3 separate regions of the Homo sapiens genome follow, and all the other regions are linked to region 1. The links come from fine-mapping of genetic effects on gene expression. A gene starts in region 1. Each other region holds a variant in brackets. All regions are shown on one strand. Distances are between the middles of the regions.

Evidence for each region. PIP is the estimated chance that this variant, and not a neighbour inherited with it, causes the effect.
Region 2: its variant is fine-mapped to the expression of ZMYM1 in whole blood (INTERVAL, PIP 0.99).
Region 3: its variant is fine-mapped to the expression of ZMYM1 in whole blood (TOPMed, PIP 0.93).

The regions. Positions count from the first base shown.
Region 1 is chr1:35,074,753-35,082,936 of GRCh38, forward strand. ZMYM1 (zinc finger MYM-type containing 1) reads left to right here and starts at 4,633. Exons shown (of 10, transcript NM_024772.5): 1 at 4,633-4,690. RefSeq lists an enhancer at 4,540-5,058.
Region 2 is chr1:35,114,670-35,122,853 of GRCh38, forward strand. It overlaps ZMYM1 (zinc finger MYM-type containing 1), which reads left to right. Exons shown (of 10, transcript NM_024772.5): 10 at 1-1,190. The coding sequence ends at 590. It also overlaps the pseudogene EFCAB14P1. Among named protein-coding and RNA genes, the nearest start is that of ZMYM1, 39 kb to the left of the region's middle. RefSeq lists an enhancer at 6,305-6,424. The variant AAAT/A (reference allele first, on the strand shown) is at 4,127.
Region 3 is chr1:35,337,608-35,345,791 of GRCh38, forward strand. The region is part of intron 2 of ZMYM4 (zinc finger MYM-type containing 4); the gene reads left to right. Among named protein-coding and RNA genes, the nearest start is that of ZMYM4-AS1, 24 kb to the right of the region's middle. The variant T/TC (reference allele first, on the strand shown) is at 3,256.

The DNA.
Region 1 (8,184 bases):
GGGGTGTTGAAGTCCCGTACTGTTATTGTATGCAGTCTATCTCTTTAGCTCTAGTAATATTAGTTTTATATATTGGGGTGCTCTGGTGTTGGACACATATATATTTTTTTTTTTTTTAATTTTTTTGAGACAGTGTCTCCCTCCATCGCCCAGGCTGGAGTGCAGTGGCGCGATCTCGGCTCACTGCAAGCTCTGCCTCCTGGGTTTACGCCATTCTCCTGCCTCAGCCTCCTGAGTAGCTGGGACTACAGGCGCCCGTCACTGCGCCCAGCTAATTTTTTGTATTTTTAGTAGAGATGGGGTTTCACTGTGTTAGCCAGGATGGTAGCACATATATATTTATAATTGTTATATCCTCTTGTTAAATTGACCCCCTTGTCATACATAATGACCTTGTCTCTTTTTACAGTTTTTGACTTAAGTTCTATTTTATCTGATATAAGTGTGGCTACTCCTGCTTACTTTTGGTTTCTGTTTGCATAGAAAATCTTTTTCCATCCTTTCACTTTGCTTGTGTTTGTCTTTAATGGTGAGGTGAGTCTCTTGTAGGCAGCAATATGTTGGGTCTTGCTTTTTTGTTGTTTTTTGTTTTTTTTGAGTCAGAGTTTCACTCTTATTGCCCAGGATGGAGTGCAATGGCACAATCTCAGCTCATTGCAACCTCTGCCTCCTGGGTTCAAGTGATTCTCCTGCCTTACTTCCACTCACATAAAGGAAGCCCCGGATTGGTTTATAGATGGCAGCCATCAAAAAACCCTCCCCTCCAAGAGGATATGCCATTACTGAGGGATATCATGATGATACCCACTCTCTCCCACCTAGAAGAGTTGTAGAGGCTGCCCCCTTGCCTTTGGGCACATCCTACCAAAAAGCAGAAATTAATTGCCCTAATAAGAGCATTAACCCTAGCAAAAACCACACAAGTTAATATATACACCAATTCCAAATATGCCTATAACATCAACCATTCCAATGCCCAAATGTGGAGCAAGTGGGGCTATCTCATGGTTAAGGGAACAACTATCATTAATGGAAAACCAATCCATCATCTACTAAAGGCAGCTTTACTTCCAGGAAAGGTTGCAGTTATTCATTGCAAAGACATCAATCAGATAAAAGCTACATTTCTTTAGGGAACTGTGAGGCTGACTATTGTGCTCAACCAATCACCCAATTCCCCAATACCTATTTCCCCTCATACAACATATCCCCTCCTTTTATCCAGAACACCAAATACAACAACTAATCATGGCAAGGGCACAATTCAAACCCCCATACTGGTTCATACAAAACAAATTAGTCCTACCTGACCCTGAAAAAGCAACTCTTTCACAGGACATTCACAACCTCTTCCACACTAGCCATTGCCCTCTACATTTCTTAAGTTCCCATATACACATAACCCCAGATATAAAGGAACAGTTAAAAGCCATTCCCCATCAACGCTCTATTTGCCAGAAAACTTCACCCCACTGCAACACTAGACCCCCTTCTTTCCCAACCTGTCAAGCCAGGGGACACCTTCCAGGACAGGACTGGCAAATTGATTTTACCCATATGCCCCCAGTAAAAAAAGGTTCAATTTCTGGCCGGATGTGGTGGCTCACACCTGTAATCCCAGCACTTTGGGAGGCTGAGGTGAGCGGATCACTTGAGGTCAGGAGTTCAAGGCCAGCCTGACCAACATGGAGAAACCCCATCTCTACTAAAAATACAAAATTAGCTGGGCATGGTGGCGCATGCCTGTAATCCCAACTACTCAGGAGGCTGAGGCAGGATAATCACTTGAACCAAGGAGGTGAAGGTTGCGGTGAGCCAAGATTGCGCCATTGCACTCCAGCCTGGCAACAAGAGCGAAGCTCCATCTCAAAAAAAAAAGAAAGGAAAACAAATGAATCAGCCAGGCACGTTGACTCACGCCTGTAATCACAGCACCCAGGGAGGCTGAGGTGGGCAGATCACTTGAGGTCAGGAGTTCAAGACTGGACTGGCCAACATGGCGAAACCCCATCTCTACTAAAAATACAAAATTAGCTGGGCATGATGGGGCACTCCGGTAGTCCCAGCTACTTGAGAGGCTGCAGCAGGAGAATCGCTTGAACCCAGGAGGCAGAGGTTGCAGTGAGCCACCAAGATCACGCCATTGCACTCCAGCCAGGGTGACAAGAGCAAAACTCTGTCTCAAAAAAAAAAAAAAAGAAAAGAAAAGAAAAAGAATGAATCAAGCTTCCTATCTCCCAGAGCTCTCCTCCTATTCCTTAGGACTTAATCTTTCAGCCAGTATAAACTATTGAGACTTCAGGGCAAGAAAGACGCATGAAACTTGTGACCTACATCTACTGCTTGAAATATTGGGCCAAATTTTCAGATCTATCACTGGGGGTGGTTGGAATATCACATCTCAAAATTATCACACATCCTTACAATTTTTTATGATATCATGAATCCTACCATTTTTTCAACTCAACTCCCAAGGAAGTTAGTAATGACGATGAAACCACCATTGCAAGATTATGACTGAGACCATGAAGGAGATCTAACCTAATGGACTCCATCTTGGTTCTAACTTTAAACTGTCCTTGTTCCTTCCTGGGCATAGGCTAAACTAACTTTGGGAGGAATTTAGTTTATAGTTTAAAACAAAGACAATAACAGCCCTTTCCCAAAACAAACCTCCTCCTTGCCTGGGGACTAGACTGCCTTTATAAGATTAACAAATTAGCCACAAGATTAGAAATTATGGTTTAGGAGTCATGCAGCTGGAGGCCAAGATTCTGACCCTCCCTAAACTGCTCCTGAGACCAGTGCTTGAGATATTTTGCAGACCCTGCACTTGATGGATCAGCTGGTACCACCCAGATAGATAAACAGGCTCATCTGATCTTGTGGCCCCCACCAGGGAACTAACTCAGCGCATGAGGACAGACAGCTTCAACTTCCCATTATTTCATCTCCTACCTAACCAATCAGCGCTTCTGGCTCACTGGCTTCCCCCCACCCACCAGTTGTCCTTAAAAACTCTGATTCCCAAATGCTCGAGGAGACTGATTTAAATAATAATAAAATTTCAGTCTCCCGCACAGCTGGCTCTGCGTGAATTACTCTTTCTCTATTGCAATTCCCCGTCTTGATAAATGGACTGTGTTTAGGTAGCGGGCAAGGTGAACCCACGGGGCATTTACAATGACATCACTTGCCTTTGGATGCCCACTGAACCAGGACTCATTTCTGGGTTCCAATCTAATCCCAGTCACTGAGTTGCTGTGTAACTTGGGGCAAATTACCTTTATCCTCTTGCCTTCAGCTTTTCCTTTGGTAGGAAGGGAGCATTAGAGGAGAGATCATTTCAGTAAGGTCCTTTCTAATCCTAACAGTCTAAACAGATTATTATGAATATTAGAAGGTAATAATAAATGTTGGAGAAATTAACTTCAGTTACTCGTATAATATTTCAAATTACCAAAGGGTTTATATTAGATTTGAGGCTAATTCCAAAGGATATTTAAGGACCATAGCAGCAAGGATTAGGAGGCCCTTTTGGTCTGGACCTCACCTTCACAAGGGCCTCAAATTTAGATTTTTGAGAATATCTCCTTTAAAAGTAATTGTCAAATATGATTATAATAAGTTCATCATTCAACCTTATATATATATTTTAGAATCCTCTTATGCCTTTAGGAATAGCACAGTTAGTTCGTCCTATACTTTTTTAGGTGTTGAAAGTATTGTCAAAAAACATTTAAAATATGCCATTATTTTTGACATGCAGTTTGGGGTTATTTTAATTTTTTTTTTTTTTTTTTTTTTTTTTTTTGAGACGCAGTCTCTCTCTGTCGCTCAGGCTGAAGTGCAGTGGTACAATCTCAGCTCACTGCAACCTCTGCCTCCTGGCTTCAAGCGATTCTCCTGCCTCAGACTCCCAAGTAGCTGGGATTACAGGCGCCCGCCTCCATGCCCGGCTAATTTCTGTATTTTTAATAGAGACGGGGTTTCACCATGTTGGTCAGGATGGTCTTGAATTCCTGAACTCAAGCAGTCCACCCGCCTCGGCCTCCCAAAGTGCTGGAATTATAGGTGTGACCCACCACACCCAGCCTGGGGTCATTTTAATTTTAACGTACTAATGAAAGAAGTCTGAACTCCCTCCCTACCTCTGAGGATAATTTCCTTTTACTAGGAATTTACTCTGCAACTGGCACTTTGCTAACATTGCCTGTCATATTTTTTTTTTTTGAGTCCAGCTTCTGCAGAAGCCTGCCTAATGTTTACAAACCTACGATGCAGCCACTACAATTATCCCCATTTCAAGGTCGAAGAAATGGAGATTTATAGAAGTTGTCAAATCGCTTACTAGCACACAGCTAATAAGTAGTAAAGCCATCTCTCAAATCCAGGAAATCTAACTGCCCTGCCTGAGCTCTGAGTCAAGGGTCCTACTTTGGCTGCCAGCCAGCGACGACTTCAAGGGTAAGATCCTATGCGGGCCGTAAGGACTCTTCCCCTCCCCCTCTCCCACTTCTTCTATCCCAAAGTCGCTCTTCCCAATTCAGGGAGCTGGGACCACCCTGAGCCAGCGGCCCTGCGCATGCTCAACCGCAGAGCACGACGGGAGAGGGGCGGGGTCGGCGGGGCCGTTTCGCTTCGAAGATTGTTTCAGAAGCGTTGGGCGGGGCGTCCCTGAGAGAAATTAGTAAGCCTCCTCATGCGGCTCTGGTTTCGGTCTTTACTCCTGCGCCTTACTCGAAAGGGGCAGGGTTTCTGCTGTCGGTCGGAGGGAGGATGACGCGCCGGGTCGGGGTTTTAGAGACGGAGCTTTGAGTGCGGATTCCGCCAGATGGGGGTCGGGAACTCCGGGCCAGGCCCTGACGTGGATTGTGTTTGCCGCCTCCTTTAACCTTGCCCTCATAGACTGGGGGGGTTAGTGCTCCCCGCTTCCAGCGATTCTCGCCGCCTCCTGCTCCTGTGTAGTAACTGGGCCTTCAGACTTTAGTCTCGCTCCGCAGCCTCCGTTTCAGAAGCCCCATCACACCTGTATCTCTCCTTCATTGAGCAGTGATTTTTCAAAAGTTTGACTCCTGGCCGGGCGTGGTGCCTCAAGCCTGTAATCCCGACACTTTGGGAGGCCCAGGCGGGCGGATCTCTTGAGGTCAGAAGTTCGAGACCAGCCTGGCCAACATGGCAAAACCCCGTCTCTACTAAAAGTACAAAAATTAGCTGGGCTTGGTGGCAGGCGCCTGTAATCTCAGCTACTCAGGAGGCTGAGGCAGGAGAATCGCTTGAACCGGGAGGCAGAGGTTGCATTTAGTCGAGATCGTGCCACTGCACTCCAGAGCGAGACCCCGTCTCAAAAAAAAAAATGAAATGTTTGCTGAACCCCAAAAGCACAGTTTGAACGCTGCTGATTTACAAGATTAATTTTAAGGTATTTGGTATCAGGGACCTTCCTGACATGACCCATGTCTACTTTTCAAACTTTCCAGTTCCTTCTACTAGCACTCTTGCACTTGTACTTTATCTGCAACAACAGTCCCACTCCTTCTAGTTCCCATATATTTGTGCTTCTTTTTTTTTTTTTTTTTTTGGAGACTGGGTCTCGCTCTTTGGCCCAGGCTGAGTGCAGTGACACGATCACGGCTCACAAGCAGCCTCAGCCTTCCGAGCTTAAGCGATCCTCCCACCTCAGGTTCCAGAGTAGCTGGAACAACAGGTGCTCCCCACTACGCCCAGCTAATTTTTGTATTTTTTGTAGAGACAGGTTATCTTCATGTTGCCTAGGCTGGTCTCGAACTCCTGAATCGAAGCAATCCACCTGCTTGGGCCTCTCAAAGTGCTGGGATTACAGGCTTGAGCCACTGTGCCCGGCTATTTGTGGTTTTGTACATGCTGTCTCTATACCAGGAATATCCGCCATCATTGGTTGGTAGACACTTTAAAACCCAGCTCAAATTTCACCTCCCAGAAGACTGACCGTCTTCTTTTTTCATTTCTTCTCAGTACCTTGTATATACTTACTGGTTGGGACATCCTACTCATCAGTGTAACCCGGTACCAAGGCACTTCGGAAATGATGGCTCTTCATTGCCTGCAGAATTAACCATGGACATTTTAGTTTGGTTTGAAAAACATATAGCCTTCTGCCTCCAGCCTTCCCATCAGGCTAGTAAAAGACCTTGCAGAACTCAGTTGAATAAAATAATTTTTTTTTTTTGAGACAGCATTTCACTCTTGTCTCCCAGACTGGAGTGCAGTAGCGCGATCTCAGCTCACTGCAACCTCCACCTCCAGTTCAAGTGATTCTCCTGCCTCAGCCTCCCAAGTAGCTGGGATTACACCACACCTGGCTAATTTTTGTTTAGTAGAGACAGGGTTTCACCATGTTGGCCAGGCTGGTCTAGAACTCCGACCTCAGCTGATCCACCCTCTCAAAGTGCTGGGATTGCAGACAGGAGCCACCGTGCCCGGCCGAATAAAATAAATCTTAGCAAAGTGTAATGTATAAAGAAGTGGTATAATGCGAAGAAATAAGGGATAGGAGTATATCTGCTTCCAGACTCTGTTTTGTTTTTGCTTGTGTCCATACCACACTATCTTAATTTACTGTAGCTTTATAAGCCCTTCCAACATTTTTTTTTTTTGATATTGTCTTGGTTATGCTAGGCTCTGTATGCACATTGTATATACATTAGAATTACCTTACAAATTCCACAAAAACCCCTGCTGGGATTTTCATCTACAGCTTAATTAGGAGAAAAATTAATATTGACTCTTTCCATCAATGAGCATTTATTTAGATCTTCCTTAATTTCTCTCAGCAATGTTTTGTTTTCACTGTAGAGTTCTTTAATAGCTTTCATTAGATTTATTCCTATATTTGATATTTATGATGCTGCAGAAAATGGTTATTTTTATATTTTTCTGTTCTAGTATAAAGAAATAAAATTGATTTTTTGTTTGTTTGTTTGAGACGGAGTCGCACTGTGTCACCCAGGCTGGAATGCAGTGGCACAATCTCGGCTCACTGTAGCCTCTGACACCCAGGTTCAAGTGATTCTCCTGTTTCAGCCTCCTGAGTAGCTGGGATTACAGGTGCCCACCACCATGCCCAGCTAATTCTTTTGTATTTTTAGTAGATACGGGTTTCACCATGTTAGGCTGGTCTTGAACTCCTGACCTCAGGTAATTCACCCATCTCTGCCTCCCAAATTGCTAGGATGACAGGCGTGAGCCACTGCACCTGGCCAAAATTTATTTTCGAATGTCTTGCTAAGCTTAATAACTTGGAGATTCTTTTGAATTTTCTTTGTATAGAATCATGTCATCCATGAATAATAACAATTTTAACTGCCTTTTCAAAGTTTGTCTTTTATTTTTTCTTGCTTTATTGATCTAACTAGAACTTCTACTACAATGTTGAAGATAAGTGATAAGAAAAATTCTAAAATGCGGATCTTGTATTATCCTATAATTCTGCTGAATTCACTTATTCTAATAGTTTCTTTTGCGGGGGGTGAGTTGGGGGAGGTTCCTTAGAGTTTTCTATATGCAGTCATGTCTACAAATAAAAAGTTTTCTTCCTTTCCAACTTTTTTTTTTTTTTAAATGGAGTCATGCGCTGTCACCCAGGCTGGAGTGCAGTGGCATGATCTGGGCTCACTGCAACCTCCACCTCCTGGGTTCATGCAGTTCTCCTGCCTCAGCTTCCCGAGTAGCTGGGATTACAGGCGTGCACCACCATACCCAGCTAATTTTTGTATTTTTGGTAGAGATGGGGTTTCACCATGTTGGCCAGGCTGGTCACGAACTCCTGACCTCAAGTGATCCGCCTGCCTCAGCCTCCTAAAGTGTTGGGATTACAGGCGTGAGCCACCACGCCTGGCCTGCTTTCCAACTTTTATGCTAAATTCCCATCTACTATTTTACTTTAGCTTAAAGAATTTCCTTTAGTGGCCGGGCGTGGTGGCTCACCCCTGTAATCCCAGCACTTTGGAAGGCTGAGGCGGGTGGATCACCTGGGGTCAGGAGTTCCAGACCAGCCTGGCCAACATGGTGAAACCCCGTCTCTACTAATAATACAAAAAATTAGCCAGGAGTGGTAGTGCATGCCTGTAATCCTAGCTACTCAGGAGGCTGAGGCAGGAGAATCACTTGAACCCGGGAGGTGGAGGTTGCAGTGACCTGAGATTG
Region 2 (8,184 bases), 40 kb after region 1:
TTGGCAATTCAGATAATATGTTTTTTCCTACTTCAACAGAAGAACAATATAAAATTAATATCTATTACCAAGGATTAGATACTATATTACAAAATTTAAAGTTATGTTTTTCGGAGTTTGATTATTGCAAAATAAAGCAAATTTCAGAACTGTTATTTAAATGGAATGAACCATTAAATGAAACAACAGCAAAACATGTTCAGGAATTTTATAAACTTGATGAGGACATTATCCCAGAACTTAGATTTTATCGACATTATGCAAAGCTTAACTTTGTCATAGATGATAGTTGCATAAACTTCGTCAGTCTCGGCTGTTTGTTTATTCAGCATGGTCTTCACAGTAATATTCCTTGTCTCTCAAAGCTATTATATATTGCTTTGTCTTGGCCAATTACTTCAGCAAGTACTGAGAACTCATTTTCTACCCTGCCTCGTCTTAAGACATATTTATGTAATACCATGGGACAAGAGAAGCTTACTGGCCCAGCCCTAATGGCTGTTGAGCAGGAGTTGGTAAATAAACTAATGGAGCCTGAAAGACTCAATGAAATTGTGGAAAAGTTTATCAGTCAGATGAAAGAAATATAATACATGCTCATTTGAACTTACCTAAAAGACTTGTATTTCCATTGGGATGTTTTCATTTCAAAATTGTTCAAAATTCAAAAGACACAGAACGATAAACAGTGAAGTCTCCTTCCCTCCTTTAGAACTCATTTTCTCTTCCCAAAAAGTGTTATCTTTTCCTTAAATATCCCTCTAGAGGTATTTTTCCTAAGTGGTATTGTACGGTGTATACTGTTCTTCAGCTTGTCTTCTCTGTGTAACATATTTTTGAGATTGTCCCATGTCGTTACATGAAGAGTTTCTTGATTCTTGGTCTATAATTGCAGATGTTATTGTATGAATGTACCATAATATATTTGAGCAGTCCCTGCTGACATTTTTTTCCTAACCTTTTGCTATTATAAATAATGATTCATTTTATAACCTTTTATATAGGTCACATTGCACATGAGTGAGTTTACTGTAAGCTGGAAATCTAAAGTTAGAATTACTAGGTTAAGATATGTGCATTTTTACTTTTGATAGATATTGGCAAGTTGCCATCTATAAGGATTGTGCCAGTTTACAGTCCCACCCACAATGCATGAGAGTGCCTATTAAATCTTTGTAAGTGTTATCAAATGTTTTGATCTTTCCTAATCTCTTACTTTAAAAATGGCGTTTTAATCTCAGTAGAATTTTGTATATTCACTTAAGAATAAGGTTGGGGACTGGGCGTGGTGGTTCACACCTATAATCTCAGCCCTTTGAGGGCCTACACAGGAAGGAAGATCGCTTGAGGCCACGAGTTCAAGATGAGGTTGGCAACATAGTAAGACCTCATCACTACAATTTTTTTTTTTTTAAATTAGTGAAGTGTGGTACTGCACACCCGAAGTCCCAGCTACTTGGGAGGCTGAGGCAGGAGGATTGCTTAAGCCCAGAAATTTGAGGCTGCAGTGAGCCATGATTGCACCACTATGCTCCAGAGTCTAGGCAACAGAGTGAGACCTTATCTCTTTAAAACAAACAAGAATGAAGTTAGGTATCTGTTTATTTGTTTGAGCCATTTGTATTTCCTTTTTTGTAGACTGTCCTGTTTAAACGTTAAAATCACTGCTGTGGTTTTGATTTATACATCTCAGCTGGATGGCACAATAAATTATTAAGCCATGTTATGAAAATATAACTATATTTAAGTAACCTGCAAAGAAAAGACTATTTCTTTATACTTCAAAAAAGTTTTGTTTTTGTTTTGAGATGGAGTTTTGCTCTTGTTGCCCAGACTGGAGTGCAATGGTATGATCTCGGCTCACTGCAACCTCCGCCTCCCAGGTTCAAGTGATTGTCCTGCCTCAGCCTCCCAAGTAGCTGGGATGACAGGCGCACGCCACCACGCCTGGCTAATTTTTGTATTTTTAGTAGAGATGGGGTTTCACCATGTTAGCCAGGCTGGTCTTGAACTCCTGACGTCAGGTAATACGCCCACCTGGGCCTCCCAAAGTGCTGGGATTATGGCATAAGCCACCACGCCCAGCCAGAAAAGTTTAAATAACAAAGAAAATGTGATATTCAAAGATTTGAAAGAATTAAGTGGTATATATATCTAGGCCTGGAATTTTTTTTTTTTTTTTTTTTTTTTTTGAGACGGAGTCTCGCTCTGTCGCCCAGGCGGGAGTGCTGTGGCGCGATCTCCGCTCACTGCAAGCTCCGCCTTCCGGGTTCACGCCATTCTCCTGCCTCAGCCTCCCGAGTAGCTGGGACTACAGGCGCCCGCCACTGTGCCCGGCTAATTTTTTGTATTTTTAGTAGAGACGGGGTTTCACCGTGGTCTCGATCTCCTGACCTCGTGATCCGCCCGCCTCGGCCTCCCAAAGTGCTGGGATTACAGGCGTGAGCCACCGCGCCCGGCCTTTTTTTTTTTTTTAAAGACTATTTCTCTGGCACTTTTCTCCAGCTGTTTCTCCCTTACCCTCTCATCAATTTTGATAACTTGTACTTTTTCTAGGAGAACATCTATTTCATTGAGGCTTTCTTTCAAATGCATTTGCCTAGAGTTGTAGAAAATATTCTCAGTATCTTCTATATACCTGTTTTACTTTCTTTCTTTCATTTTTTAAGACGGAGTCTCGCTCTGTTGCCCAGGCTGGAGTGTACGGTGGCGTGATATTGGCTCACTGCAACCTCCACCTCGCGGGTTCAAGTGATTCTCCTGCCTCAGCTTCCCAAGTATATGGGATTACAGGTGCCCACCACCACGCCTGGCTCATTTTTTTGTATTTTTAGTAGAGATGGGGTTTCACCATGTTGGCCAGGCTGGTCTCGAACTCCTGACCTCAGGTGATCCACCCACCTTGGCCTCCCAAAGTGCTGGGATTACAGGCATAAGCCACCATGCCCGGCCCTAATTTATTGATTTCCACCTTAAAAAAGAGAAAACAGGCCTGGCGCAGTGGCTCACACTTGTAATCACAGTACTTTGGGAGGCCGAGGCGGGCAGATCACTTGAGGTCGGGAGTTCAAGACCAGCCTGACTAACATGGAGAAACCCCGTCTCTACTAAAACTATAAAATTAGCCGGGCGTGGTGGCACATGCCTGTAATACCAGCTACTCGGGAGGCTGAGACGGGAGAATAGCTTGAACCCCAAAGGCTGTGGTTGCAGTGAGCTGAGATCGTGCAATTGCACTCTAGTCTGGGCAACAAGAGAGAAACTCCGTTTCAAAAAAGAGAGAAAATAGGCTGGGGACGGTAGCTCACGCCTATAATCCCAACACTTTGGGAGGCTAAGGCAGGCGGATCACAAGGTCAAGAATTCAAGACCAGCCTGGCCAACATGGTGAAACCCCATCTCTACTAAAAATACAAAAAAAATGAGCCAGGTGTGGTGGTGGGTGCCTGTAATTCCAGCTACTCAGGAGGCTAAGGCAGGAGAATCACTTGAACCCAGGAGGCAGAGGTTGCAGTGAGCCAAGATCGTGCCATTGCACTCCAGCCTGGGCGACAAGAGTGAAACTCCGTCTCAAAAAAAAAAAAAAAAAAGAAAATAGAAGTTAACTCTAGTATTGAATGTGTGTTGCATATATTTTCATTCTTTTAATGGAAGTGCTTAAGGCTATGAACTTTCCTCTAAAGTCAGCTTGGTCAACCATGTGTTTTTTCATTTTCATCATTTTCTAGCTGTTTTTAGTTGTAGTTTCTATCTTGTCATAAAATCAAGAAGTTGGGCCAGGCATGGTGGCTCACGCCTGTAATCCCAGCACTTTGGGAGGCCGAGGTGGGCGGATCACGAGGTCAGGAGATCGAGACCATGGTGAAACCCCGTCTCTACTAAAAAAAATTAGCCAGGCGCAGTGGTGGGTGCCTGTAGTCCCAGCTACTGGGGAGGCTGAGGCAGGAGAATGGCGTGAACCCGGGAGGCGGAGCTTGCAGTGAGCCGGGATCGCACCACAGCACTCCAGCCTGGGCCACAGAGCAAGACTCCATCTCAAAAAAAAAATCGAGGTTGGTGTTCTTGTTTTCATTTTCAAGTGTTTGTTTTCTATTCTTGTAGTCTATTATACAGCCAATAATGTAAA[AAAT/A]AAACTTACATTAAGTATAACAGCTATCTTGGTTGAATGCCTATTAGCCTATTAAGTAACCTAGTACTTCCCTCAGTGTTTTACATATATTATTTCATTTAGTTCTCATAACAACCTATTATTTTACAGAAGAAACTAAAAAAACACATTATGGATTACACAACTAATAGGGGTGAAACTGGATTTGTACCCAGGTAGTCTGACTCCAAAGCCCATGCTGTCAATCACCATGCTCTACTACCTCTTAGACAACCATTATCACTTATAAATATTCCTAAATAAAAGATTATCAGAAGTCCATTAAAAAATAGATGGCTGGGCATGGTGGCTCACACCTGTAATCCCAATACTTTGGGAGGCCGAGGCAGGTGGATCACCTGAGGCCACGAGTTCAAGACCAGTCTGACCAATATGGTGAGACCCCATCTCTACTAAAAATACAAAAAAATGAGCCAGGCATGGTGGTGCACACCTGTATTCCCAGCTACTTGGGAGGCTGAGACGGGAATCGCTTGAACGTGAGAGGCAGAGGTTGCAGTGAGCCAAGATTGCGCTACTGCACTCCAGCCTAGGCAACAGAGTGAGACTCTGTCACAGAAAAAAAAAAAAGTCAGAAATAGTTGTGTCATTTTTGTTAATCTCCCCAAATCCCTTCATAAAAACAGCAACTAGGAGAGTTAAAGCAGAAATCCATGCACAGCATCTACTGCTAATCTTTGTGACAAGGTATCTCCACAATCCCAAAATATGATCAGATAGTGACAAAAGCAGCTATAAGATCTGCTTGGGACATCTGTGTGGAAAGCCGTGGAGGAAAGGCAATGGGACATCTGATGGCATTAAGAATAGGAGAGCCCTCAAGTCAACATGTTTTCACTGGAAAGCATGGTAGGCCAAAAATAAAATTTAAAAAATTGGAACCAGGTGTGGTACCTCACGCCTGTAATCCCAACTGTTTGGGAGGCAGAGACAGTGAATCACCTGAGGTCAGGAGTTTGAAACCAGCCAGGCCAACTGGTGAAACCCCATCTCTACTAATAATACAAAAATGAGCCAGGCGTGGTGGTGGCAGGCACCTGTAATCCAAGTTACTTGGGAGGCTGAGGCAGGAGAATCGCTTGAACCCAGGAGGTGAAGGTTGGAGTGAGCTGAGATCCTGCCACTGCACTCCAGCCTGGGCAACAGAACCAATGAGACTCCCATCTCAAAAAAAAAAAAAAAAATTCTAGCAACAGTCAAAACACAGAAGGTTTCTATAGACTCCAATTTGCCCGTGAGTTTGTGGGGATGGTGCTAAGTTCTGAAGATGTAGTGGTCTAGGTTCTCATGAACTCTTGAAACTAACAAATTTGAGCTTCATTCCAAAACAAAACCCCTCTGAGGTTGTAGATTCCAAATTGAGCAGGACAGTGACAATAAGAGGTAAAAGAAAGAAAAGGTATAGACAGAAGTGAGAGAGAAGCAGAGGAAACATCTCAAAGTATTAGGCTATTTTAGTCACTTTCTGAAAATAATAGAACTTCATGAGCCTTGAGGCTAGAAAAGCTATTCTGTCGTGTCTCTCCCAATAAGTACAGGAAAATGCATTTCACGTGAAAGTAAGCAACAGAAAAAGATTATGAAATATAATACAAAATTGCATAGAAAACAGCAAAGTAAATCCCTACCAAACAGGTGAAAATTAACATGATGTTTCAAAACAAGCTAAAAGCGCCTGGGCAACATAGTGAGACCCCGTCTCTGCAAAAAATAAAAAAAGCTGGACGTGGTGGCTCGCACCTGTAGTCCCAGCTACTTAGAAGGCAAACGTGGGAGGATTGCTTGAGCCCAGGAGGTCGAGGCTGTAGTGAGCTGTGACTGTACCACTGCACTCCAGCCTGGATGATAGAGTAAGACACTGTCTCAATAAATAAATTTTTAAAAATATGGGGCCGGAGCGATGGCCTGGGTCTGGAGCCCGCGGCCTCCACCGCCCACAATAACAACAACGTGTAGGGAGCAGCCGCGGCCAGAGCCGGAGCAGGGGCCAGAGTTGCGGCTAGAGTAGGGCCTGCGCGTTTGAGTGACTGAGAGTTGCCCCTGCCTGAGACCTCAAACTCCAGGCGGAAGCGCTATCGGTTGGCTGAGCAGCCGTAGCCCGCCGCACGGCGACCCCCAGGCCCAGACAGCGGGGCGGAGGTCTCGTAGGCGCGGGACTGGCTTCTCTCAGGATGAGCCCTTAGAGCCGGGCTCCGGATCTTTCTCAGCCTCGGGCCCCTTTCACTTTCAGGACAGAGGCCAGAGAACGGTGATCATCACACACCCCAGCCGGCTTCCTGGCCTGGGCATTTTCTCCGCGGCCAAGCAGTGTTGGGGTTGTAGCTGCTGGGAGCTCCCTCCTGCCGCCACCTCTTCTGCTAGGAAGGGACTGACGCGTTCCCACGTTCTTGCTCTGCACCTCCCCACTCTTCCCACTCAAGAATAAGTTTCTCGGCCGGGCGCGGTGGCTCACACCTGTAATCCCAGCACTTTGGGAGGCCGAGGCAGGCGAATCACGAGGTCAGGAGATCGAGACCATACTGGCCAACACAGTGAAACCCCGTCTCTACTAAAAATACAAAAACATTAGCCGGGCGTGGTGGCAGGCGCCTGTAGTCCCAGCTACTCAGGAGGCTGAGGCAGGAGAATGGTGTGAACCAGGGAGGCGGAGCTTGCAGTGAGTGGAGATCGTGCCACTGCACTCCAGCCTGGGCGACAGAGCGAGACTCCGTCTCAAAGAAAAAATAAATAAATAAATAAATAAATAAGTTTCTCTTCCCTCTCCATTGAAAATTCTGCCCCGGAGGTCCAAAACATCTATTTTGTGTGCCCTTCCCCAGCTCCTGGAGCAGCACCCTTAGAAGTATTGCCTACTCATCAGGGCTGAGAATCCTTCATTTTTGACTTGGCTTTTTTCGCCCTTTGGGAGATAAAGGTCCCTTTCCACCCTCTTTACTAACGCTCTGCCCACCAGCCCTTATCCTTGGGGTCATCAGCTCCTTGGCCATTTCTATGTGACTTCCCCCACCCATCTGAGTTCCAGCTTCCTCTGGGCTCCAATCTCCAGTCCCTGGCGGAGTGACTAGGGGGCTCTGGCCCAGGATCCCCAACCCTGGAAGGCAGCTCTAACGCAGGAAGAGAATTGGGCGTCGGGTGCGCACCTGGCAGCTCAGGAGTCGGGGCTCCACTCACCCCACACAAGAAGATGAAAATGCCCAAAGAGCTCAATGTATTGATTGGTTTGGCTGGGGACAGCCAGAGAAAGAAGCCCAAGCAGTCACCGCCTGCTTCGCCCTGAGCCTCCTGACTTAGACTCTGAGTCCAGCTCCAAGGAGGAAGAGGAATTCGGTGTGGTTGGAAATCGCTCTCGCTTTGCCAAGGGAGGCTATTGACGATGCTGCAAGATCTGCTATCCGCTCTGTGGTTTTGTCACCCTCTCTGCCTGTGTTGTGGCCTGTGTTGGCTTGGTGTGGATGCAGGTTGCTCTCAAGGAGGATCTGGATGCCCTCAAGGAAAAATTTCGAACAATGGAATCTAATCAGAAAAGCTCATTCCAGGAAATCCCCAAACTTAATGAAGAACTATTCAGCAAGCAAAAAAAACTTGAGAAGATTGAATCTGGAGAGATGAGTTTGAACAAAGTCTGGATAAACATCACGGAAATGAATAAGCAGTGCAGGGTCGGGTCATGAGTGGCCAGAGCCTATCCTGGCAGCGTAGAGTGCAAAGCGGGAACCAATCCTGGACAGGAAGCCATCCCATCGCAGGGCTTACTCATACACACGCTCACACTCAGACTGGGACCATTTACGCATGCCAACTAACCAAACATGCACAGTTTTGTGATGTGGGAGTACCTGGAGAAAACCCACGCCAACATGGGGAGAACATGCAAACAGACAGTGGCCCGGCCAGGAGTCAGATTTTTTTCTCCTCAATGTTATAACCAAATGACGTTGAACAAAACATTATTCAAGGACCTGCTGTAAATAGGAAAGTTTACTTCTGTCCTAGGGCTTCATCTATGAAGCTGGAAG
Region 3 (8,184 bases), 260 kb after region 1:
GTCTCTGTTGCAGCAGTTCAGCTCTGCCTTTGTAGCATAAAAACAATACAGATAAGGCCGGGTGTGGTGGCTCACACCTGTAATCCCAGCACTTTGGGAGGCTGAGGCGGGTGGATCACCTGAGGTCAGGAGACCAGCCTGGCTAACATGGCGAAACCCCATCTCTACTAAAAATACAGAAATCAGCTGGGCGTGGTGGCAGGCACCTGCAATTCCAGCTACTTGGGAGGCTGAGGCAGGAATATCCTTTGAACTCAGGAGGTGGAGGTTGCAGTGAGCCAGGATTGCACAACTGCACTCCAGCCTGGGTGACAGAGCGAGACTCCATCTCAAAAATAAAATAAAATAAAAACAATATAGATAGTACATAAATGGATTATTGTGTTTCTGACAAAACTTTAGGGACTCTGAAATTTGAATTTAATGTAATTTTTCATGTGTCAGGGAATGTTCTTTTGATTGTTTTTTAAACTATTAAAACATGTGAAAATCATTCTTAGCTCTTGGGCTATACAGAAACAGAAGGGAGGTCTCTTGGATTTGACATGCAGGCATAGTTTACCTACCCCTGCTGTAGGGTATATTTGAGGAGGTGATTGCTCAGGCCTAGGCAGGTGTACATTCTCAACTTTGCTAGAAACGCAAAACTTAGTTTCTTTTGTGCAGTTGATCCTTGAACAACATGGGCTTGAACTGTACGGGTCCACTTATGCATGGATTTTGGATTTTATTTAGTAAATACAGTTGGCCCTCTGTATCAGTGGATCCTGCAACCAAGCGTGGATAGAAAATGCAGTATGTGAGGGATGTGAAACCTGCTTATACAGAGGGCTGACTTTTTTTTCATATCAGCAGTCTCATGCCAACTGTAGGCCTTGAATATGCTCGGGTTTTGGTATCTGTGGGGTAGGGGAATGTCCTGGAACCAAAGCCCCAGTAATACCAAGGAAAGACTAGTTTTATCCATTTACATTTCTGTTACTGGTTAATTAAAGTTGTGGTCACCTCACATCTGGCCAACACTTGATTTATTAGACTTTTAATCTTTGTCAGTATGGAGGATATAACATGAACTTCATTTTGTCTTTAATTTGCATTTCCTTGTTAATGAGTAGTTGAACATTTTTCACATTTATTGGGTATTTTTAATTTTTTTTGTGAAATGCCTGTTACGTTAAATCTATTACCCACTTGCTATTAGTTTTTTTCTTATTGAATTGTAGGCATTCTCTAAATGTTCTGAACAATAAACTTACCAGTTATAGATGGTGCGAATAAACTTCTCATTCATCTCTTATGTCTTCATAAAATCTTTGCATATGCAGAAGTTAATTGATTTTAATGTAGTTGAACGATAATAAATTTATCAGTCTTTTCCTTTATGGTTTATATTTTAACCCCCATTTTATTTAGGAAAAATTTCCTGGGCTGAGATCAGGAAGAGCAATTACAGTTTGCCCTCTGTATCCATGGGTTCTGCATCTGCAGATTCAACCAATCGTGGATCAAAAATATTTGGAAAAAAATATTGATGATTGCATTTGTTCTGAACATATAAAGACTTCTTTTTCTTGTCATTATTCCCTAAACAATACAATATAACAACTATTTACATAGCATTAACATTATATTCTTTTTTTTTTTAAGATGGCGTTTCACTCTTGTCACCCAAGCTGGAGTGCAGTGGCGCGATCTTTGCTCACTGCTTCCTCCGCCTCCTGGGTTCAAGCAGTTCTCCTGCCTCAGCCTCCTGAGTAGCTGGGATTATAGGCACCTGCCACCACACCCAGTTGATTTTTGTATTTTTAGTAGAGATGGGGTTTCACCACACTGGCCAGGATGGTCTCAAACTCCTGACCTCAGGTGATCCGCCTGCCTTGGCCTCCCAAAGTGCTGGGATTACAGGCATGAGCCCATAATATTAAGTTCTATAAGTAACCTAGAGATGAATTAAAGTATATGGGAAGATGTGTATAGATTATGTGCAAATACTATTCCATTTTATATAAGAGACTTGAGCATCTGTGGGTTTTGAGCATGGTTGGGAGGGGTGTCTTGGAACTAGTGCCCCATGGATATGGAGGGATGACTGTATATTATTTCCTAAAATCTTTATTGATTTTGCCTTTCACGTGTAGCTTTTGAATTACCCTACACTAATTTTTTATATGGTGTGGAGTAGGGAACTAATTTTATTTACTATTATAAGGCTAATAAATTACCTTACTCACCAGCATCTATCAAATACTACCTCCTTTCTCCAGTAAGCTGCAAAGTTTCTCTATAACTACATCTGTAGGCATTTCCCCACATTCTCAGTTAATGTTTTCTTGGACTGTTTGTTTGTTTATTCCTGTGACAGTACCAAGGTGTTCTAATGAATGAGCTGTGTAATAATTCTTAATAATCTGATGGGACACATCCCTGAAAATTTTTCTTCAGGAATGTTTTGCCTATTCTTGCCCCTGTTTACATTAGAAATATCTTGGGAAGTTTCTGACAGAACAAAATCAAATAACAAAAATTTTTTGGGAATTTTATTTAATTATCATGAATGTGTAGATCAACTGAGAGAGAAGTGGCATTGTGTCTTTCTATCCATGAACTTGGTATGTCTTTGTATTTATTTAAATCTTCAATGTCTTTGAATACAATTTTATAATTTACTCTGTAAAGTAGCAGTCCCCAACCTGTTTTGGCACCAGGGACCAGTTTTGTGGAAGATAGCTTTTCCATGGACCCAGGCGTCAGAGGGAGAGGCAGGATGGTTTTGGGATGATTCAAGCACATTACATTTATTGTGCACTTTATTTCTGTTATTATTAGATTGTGATATATAATGAAAATAATTATACAGCACATTATAATGTAGAATCAGTGGGAACCCTGGTCTTGTTTTCCTGCAACTAGATGGTCCTATCTGGGAGTGATGGGAGATAAGTGACAGATCATCAGACATTAGATTCTCATAATGGGCAGGCAACCTAGATCCCTCACATGCATAGTTCACAATAGGGTTTGCGCTCCTATGAGAATTTAATGCTGCTCTCCTATGAGAATTTAATGCTGCTGCTGATCTGACAGGAGGCACAGCTCAGGCGGTAATTCAAGCAATGGGGAGTGGCTGTAAATACAGATGAAGCTTTGCTTGCTTGTGGGATGCTGACCTCCTGCTGTGAGGCCCAGTTTCTAACAGGCCATGGACTGGTACTGGTCTGTGGCCTGGAGTTTGGGTACCCCTGCTATAAAGGATTA[T/TC]CATGCAAGCTCTTTATTTTATATTTTAGCATTTAAGTTTTATTTAATTGGATGTAGGGCAAGGTTGGGGTCCACTTTTATTCCTTAGATGAGTAGCCTATTGTGCCACCATAATCTTTTTATCACTGAACTGAATTAGCACCACTGAGATATATTTAAAGTTCTATGTATATTGGGATCTATTTTGGAATTTCTATTACATTCTATTAATATATTTATTTTTATATTGATGCCATATTGATTTTTATTATTTGTATATTTATTTGAAGGAGTATTTTTAAATTACTGTGTATTTATTGGCTTTGTGGTATAGACATTTATCTGCTGGGTCAAGCCACTGTCTCAGTTTTATTTTTTGTAATTTTTGCTTTCCATTAAGCCACTAAATTTTAACATGATTTTATATACTTTCCAAAAATATTTTGTTGGACTTCTAATTGAAAATGATACATGTACATATATTACTTTTGGGCAGAATCAATATTTTTATTATGTATTTGTTCTTACATACAATAAGAACAATAAGCCCAAATCTTAGCATACAGATCTTATTTTATGCCATTCACTAACATTTTATTTTCAAGTAATATTTATTGTGCTTTTTCTTGTATCAGTTGTTCTTTAGTACTTTGACAAATGTAAAAATTTTTATTTTTTATATTGAAAAACTTTTTTCATTTCTAGATTCTTATTGCAAGAATAGTCAGGGTGTTACTTAATTCCCTTATTAAATCTAGTAGGCTTTTAAAATAAATTTGAATCTGTAGTTATGCATTATAAAGCCATATCATCTAAAACTATTTTATTTCTTTTTTCCAGCTTCTTCACATTATATAATTTTAGTGTTTTGCTAAAATTTGTAGGACTTCATTAAATATTAAAGTAGTAGTGACTTTTGACTAATTCTTGATTCTAAGTAAAGTAGTTAATTTGTAGTATTTTGTCATTGGGGGCTGATTGTAGTTGGTTTCTGTCAAATAGGCTTAGGCTTTATTACATTAAAAAATATATGTTCCCATTCTACCTTGAGGAATGGCTGAATAATATTCATATTTATATATTGCTAGATTCAGTTTGCTAATATTTTCCTGACAGAGTTTGTGTTAAGATTGGAGTTATAGCTTCATTAAATTTTTATACAATTAATCACTGAAATCATCTGGACCTAGATATTTCTTGGTGTGATGGTTTAAAATTCTGAATTCACTTTCTTTAATAGATACAGCATTTAAAGAATTTTATATTTCATCTTGTGTCTGTTTTTGGTAGGTTGTATTTTTCAAGGCATTTGTTCATTTCATTTTTGTTGTTATTTTTAGACAGGGTCTCGCTCTGTTTCAGGAGTGCAGTGGCGCGACCTCAGCTCACTGCAGCCCCCACCTCTCATGCTTAAGTGAGCCTCCCACCTCACCCTCCCCCGTAGCTGGGACCACAGGCATGTGCCACCATTCCTGGCAATTTTTTTTATTTTTATTTTTTGTAGAGAGAAGGTCTTTCTCTGTTGCCTAGGCTGGTCTCGAACTCCTGGGTTCAAGCAATCCTCCTGCCTTGGCCTCCCAAAGTTCTGGGATTACACTGCTCTTGGCCTCCATTTCATTTAAGTCGTCCCTGTCTTTTGAACTGTAAGCGTTTTGTGGGGGATGGAAAGTAGCATCTCAATGCATTTCCCTGGTAACCAATGGTGTTGAGCATTTTTCAGAGTACTTATTGGCCTTTCCTAAATGTTGTTTTGTGAAGTGTATGTTTGAATTTTTGTCCATCTTAAAATTTGTTTGTCTTCTTTTTATGAAGTTGTAAGGATCCTTTTTGTTGTTGTTGTTGTTGTTGAGACAGGGTCTCAGTCAGTTGCCCAGGATGGAGTGCAGTGGTGTGATCATGGCTCACTGCAACCTCAATTTTCTGGGCTCAGGTGATCCTCCCACCTCAGCCTCCTAAGTAGCTGGGACCATAGGCACATGCCACCACGCCCAGCTACTTTTTTTTTCTTTTTGTACTTTTTTGTAGAGATGGGGTTTCACCATGTTGCCCAGGCTGGTAGCGAACTCCAGGCCTCAAGCGACCTGCCCGCCTCAGCCTCCCAAATTACTGGGACTACAGGCAAGAGAATCCTGAGCCTGGCCCAGGATTCTTCATGTATACTAGTTTGGATACAAGTCTCAATAGATAGACTGATAGAAACAGATGGGGCTATCTCTGTGTCTGTCTCCATCAGTCTACATCTGTATTTCTCTCTCCGTATCCATCCATCCATCCATCTATGCATTCATCTGTTCTTTGGATTGCCTTTTGTTGTATTGTTGGTGTTCTTTGAAAAGCACAAATTTTTAATATTGATGAAGCCCAATTTTATTATTATATTTTTATGGTCTATGCTGTGTTCTAAGAAATCTATCATAAGATCATGAAAATTTGTACTTGCTTTTTTTCTAGAAACCTTATAGTTTAGGCTTAGCTTTTATGCTTAAGTTGATGATCCATTTCAAGTTTCTGTATGTAGTGTAAAATAAATCTTTTTGTATATGGATGTCCAGTTGTATCAGTAACATTTATTGAAGATTTTTTTTTTGGATTGATTTACCTTGGCACTTTTGTGGGAAGTCATTTGACCAATGTTTTTGAGTCTATTTTTGGACTTTTCTATTCCACAAATCCGTATGTTTATCCTTAGGCCAATATCACACTGTCTTGGTTAATTTAGCTTTATATTAAATCAGAAGTTTGGCTGGGCACAGTGGCTGACACCTGTAATCCCAGCACTTTGGGAGGCCAAGGCGGGCGGATTGCCTGAGGTCAGGAGTTCGAGACCAGCCTGGCCAACATGGTGAAACCCCATCTCTACTAAAAATACAAAAATTAGCTTTGCGCAGTGACGGGCACCTGTAATCCCAGCTACTCGGGAGGCTGAGGCAGACAATTGCTTGCACCCGGGAGGCGGAGGTTGCAGTGAGCTGAGATCACGCCACTGCACTCCAGCCTGGGCGACAGAGCGAGACTCTGTCTCAAAAAAAAAAAACAGAAAAATTGTTTTGGCTTTTCATGTCTCTTGTAGTTACACATACATTTTAGAGTCAATGTGTAAATTTCTAGAATAATCCACAGAGACTTTGGAGTTACATTAAATCTCTAGATTAATTTGGGGGAAAATTAACACCTTAAGTATATATAGTCTTTTCATAAGCATGGAATATTTCTTTTTTCCTTTTTTTTTTTTGAGACATTCTTGCTCTGTTGCCCAGGCTGGAGTGCAGTGGCGCTATCTGGGCTCACTGCAACCTCTACCTCCTGGGTTCAAGCGATTCTCGTGCCTCAGCCTCCTGAGTAGCTGGAATTACAGGCGTGTGCCACCATGCCTGACTGATTTTTATATTTTTAGTAGAGATGGGGTTTCTCCATGTTGGCCAGGCTGATCTTGAACTCCTGGCCTCAAGTGATCCACCTGCCTCGACCTCCCTAAGTGCTGGGATTACAGGTGTAAGCCCCTGTGCCCAGCCGCTAGGATGTTTATTACAGTATTGAGTAGAAGTGGTGAGAGGAGAGATTTTTAACTGTTTTTTTCAACTTAGGGGGAAAGTATTCAGTCTTAAACTGTTAAGTAGGTCATGAGATGTTGATTTTTTTTTTTATAGATGCCCTCTCTCAGATCAAAGACCTTCTTTTCTCTTTTTAGTTTACTGAAAGATATTTTCATGAATGAGTATTAAATTTTGTCAGTTGCTTTTTCTCTACTTAGATGATCATGTTATTTTTTCCTTTAATGTGTTAATATGAAGATGAATTTTTAAATATTAAACTCACTTTGCATTTATGGGATAAATCTTACTTATGATATATTATTTGTTTTATATGTTTCTATATTCAATTTGCCAATATTTTAAGTATTTATGCTAATATTTTAAGCAGCTATGTTTGTGAAAGATACTGGCATGTATTTTTCATGTAATGTGTTTTCCTGGTTTTGGTCCCAGGGCAATATTGGCCATATAAAATTAGGAAATATTCCTTTCTCATATTTGCTTAAAGAGTTCATATAAGATGGGTTATTATTTCCTAAGTGTTTTATTTACTCAATTCACTAGTGGAGACATCCGGGCCTGGGGCCATTCAGATTTTCTATTTCTTCCATGTCAGTTTTGGTAATTTTCACCTTTTGAGCCATTTCTCTATCTGCACAGTCAGAGTCTGCATCATCATGGAAATGTTCTTGTACACAGTTAAAGTATGGTAGCCACTGGCACCTGTGACTGTTGAGCACTTGAAATGTGATGGGTGCAGAACTGAAGTTTTAGTTTGACTAAATTTATTGCTTCTGGGCCTCTTGGCTAAGATCAAGTGTAATTTAATTAGAATTAAGTTTAAATAGTCAAGTGTCACGTGGCTACTGTATTGCATATCACAAAGCTAAACTGTCATTTATTTTTGTAAAGTTGTTAATCATTCTTATGTATTGCCATCAAGTTAATAATATTTTAAACTGTATGGACCTCCAGTTGTTTATAATATTTTCTTAGTTTATTTTTAATTTCTATGAAATCTGTAGTCCCTTATTTCATTCCTGATATTGGTAATGTGTATCCTCCACCACTCCCCGTATTACTTTTTTTTTTTTAAAGACAGGTTTTTACTCCTGTTGCCCAGGCTCTAGAGGGCAGTGGTGCGATCTCGACTCACTGCCATCTCCGTCTCCCGGGCTCAAGCAATTCTCCGGCCTCAGCTTCCTGAGGATTACTGGTGCATGCCACTTCACCGGCTAATTTTTGTATGTTTTGTAGAGATGGGGTTTCACCATGCTGCCCAGGCTGGCCTTGAATTCCTGGGCTCAATCAGTCCGCCTGCCTTGGCCTCCCAAAGTGCTGGGATTACAACCGTGAGCCACTGTACCCAGCCTCCCACATTACTTCTTAAAAAACATCTTTAAAAACTTTAATTGTA